Regions from separate parts of the Homo sapiens genome. Here region 2 is linked to region 1. Evidence: fine-mapped expression QTL. A gene starts in region 1. The other region holds a variant in brackets. All regions are shown on one strand. Distances are between the middles of the regions.

Evidence for each region. PIP is the estimated chance that this variant, and not a neighbour inherited with it, causes the effect.
Region 2: its variant is fine-mapped to the expression of TOX in whole blood (TOPMed, PIP above 0.99).

The regions. Positions count from the first base shown.
Region 1 is chr8:59,117,748-59,120,657 of GRCh38, forward strand. TOX (thymocyte selection associated high mobility group box) reads right to left here and starts at 1,400. Exons shown (of 9, transcript NM_014729.3): 1 at 1,139-1,400. The coding sequence starts at 1,240. TOX-DT (TOX divergent transcript) reads left to right here and starts at 1,463. Exons shown (of 3, transcript NR_149031.1): 1 at 1,463-1,538; 2 at 2,210-2,324; 3 at 2,589-2,910. RefSeq lists a silencer at 1,925-2,144.
Region 2 is chr8:59,181,725-59,184,634 of GRCh38, forward strand. No RefSeq gene overlaps it. Among named protein-coding and RNA genes, the nearest start is that of TOX-DT, 64 kb to the left of the region's middle. The variant T/G (reference allele first, on the strand shown) is at 1,198.

The DNA of each region.
Region 1 (2,910 bases):
GCAGGGGCTGTGAGTATCAGGCAGATTTATCACCAAGCGAGAGTTGGGCGTCTAAAAGGCCCGCCCAGCGTTTTAGAGAACTCAATTCTCTCTGCCAACGTTCATCCAACGGGACTGCTTAGACACGTCCAACTAGCCCTAGGCGTGGGCAGTCGTGCCCCTGCGACCACTCTGGGGGACCGGTCCCTGCGTGTCCTCCCTCTCTGGGATGAGAGAGTTCGAGAAGCCGGGAGAGTAACCCCCTCCCTCGTACCCCCTGACTGTCCTATAGGTGGACCCAGCCGAACTCCGCAGCAGCCCAGGCCAGCGCCCCACCTCCGGGTCACCGGCATGATCCGCCTCTCCCCGGGCCCCCGCGGCCCTGGCACCCGAGGTCAGCGGGCCGTGGGTACAGCTCAGCCGCGGACCCTGCTCCGCGAGTGCGGGAGCTTTGGACTTGAACGCGACGTGCTCGCCCGGCTCCCAACAAACTTGCAATTTCCGCGCGCACCCCTTAAACAGGAACTGTTCCCCAAACCTTGACCCAGCTACCCCGCTGTGCTCTGGCCCGCGGACCTGTGTCCGAACCCGGGCTCGGCTGCCGGAACCGGTTTGAGAAAACAAAAGAGTTGTGGGGCAGTTTTCCCTGTGGGGGGCAGGGGCGCCTCCCAGGTCCCTGCACCCCGACTCCCGGCTGCTCCCCTGGCAACTAATCCGGAGAAGGGAAGTGGTGCCACGAGCCCCCACTGCCCGGGGAGGGAGGGAGAGAGAAGGGGGAACTGGGAAATAAACTGAATTCTCTTACTCTGCCTCCGTTCCTGGACCCCAGACACACCCCCAAAGTATTCCACGGTTTTCTCTTATTATTTTTTTAAACGCCCCCCGGCAAACCTAGGCAGGGATCCTTAGCCGCGAACAGCAGGAAGGAAAGAATCCGAGCAAATCGTGTCACTTTCCGCACAATCGCGGTGTTTGGCAAGCCCCCGGAGCTACTCCACAATATTTACTACCCAAGCGCACGCAGGCTGCAGCGGGCTGCGAGCCGAGCGCGCCCGGGACCGGCCTCCGCCAAGCCGGCCCCGCCGCGGCCCGGCCACCGCCGCTCCCCTCCCAGGATCAAGCAGCAAGAACACGGTGGAAACAAAAGCAGAGCGTTCACCTTGTTGCAATAGTAGGGGTCCAGGCAGGGAGAAGGTCCCAGACAGGGAGCGTCGGGCGCAGCGGCGGGCTGGGCTGGAGGTGGATAAAATCTTACGTCCATTTCACTCTCACATCAAGCAACTCCTTTTCTTTTTCCTTTTTTAAAAAAAAGTGTTCAGCAAAACAAGCTTAGACGGAACAGAGTGAGGTGTCTGGGCTCAGGAGTAAAAGAAACACCTTCCTTCCCTCACATCCGTTTGTGGTTTGTTTAAGAAGAAGAGGAAAAAAAAAAAAAAGAGGGGGGAAAAGCGCTCAACTCTCCCCCAAGCCGCGGCGCGCACCCGTCGGCGCCGAGCGCGCAGCCTGCTCCACCGCCGCCTCTTGGTCCCGCCGCCGCCGCTGCCGCCGCCGCCGGGCAGGTAACTTCATGCGCTCATTGTCCCCCCCGCCCGCCCCCCCATCCCCGCCTCCCGCGCCCCTCGCAGCCCGGCACACGCGCTCGGGCTCTAGGTACTGGGCGTTTTATTGGAGATTCTGAGTTGTTCTGCTTGTAGTTTATTTTCTCCACCTTGGAGGCCCGGGATGTGGGGGGTGGGGGGGTGGGGCGGGGATCCAGAAGGGACAGGGCGGGAGGGGGGCGAGCGTCCCGGGCCGGGCGGGGTAGGGAGCGCGGCCGGACGCGGGCTCGTCAAGGCCCAATGGCTGCTGTTCGGAACCAGAGGCCGGGGACCGGAGAAAGGAGGAGCGGAGAAGGAGAAGGAGGAGAGCACGGCCTGGCTGGGACAGAAGCGGTGGGACCCTGGGAGGCCTCCGCTGTGCCCGTGCCGCGCTCCTCGGGACCAGCGCGTCGCACACAAAGGGGCTGCCGAGCCAGAGCCACCAGCGGCCTCAGGGCACCGTGGGGAGCGCGCAGCTAGGGGGCGCTGTGGCGCACCCCGCCCCGCAGCCCCGCCCCCGGCCCTCCCCGGCCCCACCCCACTCCCACCGCCCTCTCCGCGGCCGTCCCCACCCCTATCTCCGCGACCCCCACTCCTCCTCGGCTGTTCCCCAACCCTGTCACTGTGCTCCCCTCCCTACTCCCGGCCCGTAGTGGAGGTGACTTTCCTGCGCAGCGCCGCTTCTGAGGGCGGAGAACCCACAGGGAGTGCGACCCCTTTGCACGCTGTGAGTGGGCAACTGTCCGAGGGACTCGAGCCGATCGAAGGGTGAGGACCAGCTCGCCTGGGGGTGGACGGCCTGGAAAAGCCGCCCCTCTTTGGCTTCCCTCTGCCGCCTGCAGCCCGCACCCCTCCGAGATTCGTGCCCCACTGGACGGTTTGCGAAGGCTGAGGCTGCCTTGGGGACTCACAAAAGACCACAGGGGTGATTCGAAGTGTAAATAGGGAAACAATCATCAGCACACAATCCGGCTAAAGGGATAACATATGAGTTTGCTTGTTGTCCTTCATGGGATTCTTCTCTTTTTATAGCTGGACGCCCTATAGGGCTCTTGGCAGTCCACGAAAGACCTGGAGTCCGCCTCCCCATTTCTCCGGTCGGTGAGTGGCAGGAGGAAATCGCCAAACATGTTTTCCCGCTTTGCCTCCCCAACTCGGAAACTTGCAACTTGCCGTGTCCTGGAGGTTGAGACAATTTGGGGTCTCTTGGCTGCCGTCCAACAGATTTATCTCTGAGGGCAGTGTCCTTGGTGAGAGGTCCAAGTAGGTGTGGGCGACATTGTCCTCCATCTCATGAGGGAGCAGCCCTGCACACTAGGGCCCAAAACTCTGCGAAGGAGCTTGGAAGTTCTTC
Region 2 (2,910 bases), 64 kb after region 1:
AGTGGTCATTGGATATGTCTTTGCTAAAGAATGGAATGAAGGAGTGAGAGAGGAACTAGTAAATGTGCTTCTAATTTGTGCATGTGTATCTACTGCTGATATCTTAATCATTGTTACATTTGAAAATAGTAGCATCTCATAATTTTTTGGTATCTCTTACAGAATTTGTCACATTTTGGCCAATGAGATGCTAAATAAATATGCTTTCAGCAAGGCAATTTTTGGGGTAAAGTTTGGGCAATAGTACATATTTTTATAGGACTGATGAGATTGTGTGTGTGTATGTGTGTGTATACATATATTTGTGTATATGTATATATACATATATATATGAAGCACTTAGCCTATACCCCACATATGCTAATTGTTACTTTTACTACCACTGCCGTGGTGACTGCAAGAAGAAAAAATGTTTTCTGCTTTTGCTGTCACCTAACTTCAAAATTTCTACTTAGGACTTGTAGATAAATAATTTAAGAGAGACAAAATCACATTAGACTTTAGCTCTAATCTCTTCAGGACACTAATTCTGAGGTAAAGTTTTTGGATAATATATTTATCTCCATATCTTGCTGTTTTCTCAAAAGGTAAGCATAAGAAACAAGATCAAGAGCCAGAAATATGTACCCGCTCACTCAGCATCCAGACCACTGATGTGTTAGATATTATAGGTGGAATGTAAGTAACCCAAGAGCATGGACACTATCTGCTTGTTCATTGCTGGATCCCTAAAGCTTGGCCCATAGTAGGTCGTCAATTCATATTTTTCCAGTGAATGGTTACATCACTGGTGTTTAAATTGTAACTGTTAATGAATTTTCCTGCAGTAATGTTGTAGGTTTTCATTTCAGATGACGGTGTTGTACAACAGATAATGTTTGAAGCAAATAGGTAGGGGACATGGTAGTGGGTGACAGGCAGCAATACACCTCTATGTAACCAATAGAGAAAGTATAAAAAGGCATTTTAAAACATCTGAAGAACTGATGTTACTGTTATAAAAATTAGGCTAAGAGGCAGAAGCTGCCAGGGGCTAGTGGGCTGGGAGGGATGAATAGAGCATAGGGGATTTCAGGGCAGTGAAACTACTCTGTAGGATGCTATAATGGTGGCTGCATGGCATTATTCATTTGTCAAAACCCATAGAGGGTACATCAAGAGTGAACACTAATGTGAACTGTGAACTTCCGGTGATAA[T/G]GCTGTGTCAATGTGGGTTCATGAATTGTAACAAATGGTTAACAAATGTACCACTGTGGTTGGATGTGGACACTGGGGAAGCAGTGCCTGTGTGGGGGCAAGGGTTATATAGGAAATCTTTGTACCTTTCACATAACTTTGCTATGAACCTAAAACTGCTCTAAAAAATTAAATTTATGAAAAAAAGTTAGGCTAAATTGTAACCTCATGATAAGCCTTCCCCTAAACATTATAAAATAAAACCACTTCCCCTGGAAAATTAATAAACAAGGTTTTTTTTTTTTCTTTACCTGCTTGGTATTGGGGCTTACTCATTTCAATGACAATGGAAAAATCTATTACTTTTGCTTTCTCAGAAATTATGTTTCATTTTATAATAACTGCATAAAATGATATATGAAACTATAGGACTTTTTTGGTTACATAAGTTCAGCTCTTAATTAAACAGTTTATTCCATAAACAATAATTTAGCGTCTCAATTCCCCCAAGGTACAATGCTAAGTGTTCTAACAAATGTAGAGATTTTTATAGGAATCTGTTTCACTTGAGAGGTGGCTTGCCATTTTCAGAGCATGTACACATATATTTTCTCACTGTTCCTCACAAGCCTGGGCAGTTGGCAGAGAAGGTCTTTAAACTTCCACCTGAGACATTATTATTTATCTAAAAATTGTATTTTTGTACAGTAATAACATTAAAACAAAATAGAATTTTAAAACAAAAAATCACATATACCCAACTATCTTAATAAAATAAGTTTAATTTTTAACATTTTATCTTTTAGACTGTTCATGTTTGAATAGTAATCATTATTGGGTTTGAAGGGATATTCAGAGAAACTGCTTATTTAGAAAAGTAGAAAAAGTTATGGCAGTGAGGAAGTCAAAGTAAAATATGTCACTAATACATTTGGGAAAAGATGAGTGACTGGCACCACCCTGTCGGGAAACAGAGCACAGGAGTGGTGGACCTGGTAGAACTAAGAAATGTTTCATTTTATTTTTTTGATGCAAGAATGAGGGGACAACTCCCCTCAACAACTGTATTGAGAATACGGTTGTTAAAATGACCAGATAGAGTTAAAGATTTTGAAAGGTTGAACTCTGGATGCCCCACTTTTATTACCCTGGAGAGAAGTCCCTTCCGCTTTGTTAGTCCCCCTCCCACCCCCTCCTTTAAAAAAGTCTACCTTACAAAAGAAGTAAATAGGAAAAAGAGGAGGAAGAACTTGTATCTAGTTAGTTCTGTCTTGAAGAAAGTCAGGAGAGGACTGTAAGCGAGTTGATACTGCACTTGAAGGTTGAGGTCATGAAGAATGGGCTTTGAGGTAAGGGTGTAACAAAGCTTCTGAGGACCAAAGTGGTTTCTCCAGTGATTTTTTTTTCTTTTGAGACAACATCTTGTTCTGTCATGGAGGCTGGAGCACAGTGGCTCACATGGTTCACTGTAGCCTCCACCTCCCGGGCTCAAGTGATCCTCCTTCCTCAGCCTCCTGAGTAGCTGGGACCGCAGTCACACGCCACCATACCCAGCGAATTTTTAAAAAATTGTATGTAGACATGGGGGTCTCCCTATGTTGCCCAGGCTCGTCTTGAAATCCTGGCCTCAAGTGATCCTGCCTGAGCCTCCCAAAGTCCTAAGATTACAGGTGTGAGCCACTGCGCCCAGCCCTTTTCCACTGATTTTGATGGGAGGCACTGCTGGTTCTAAGT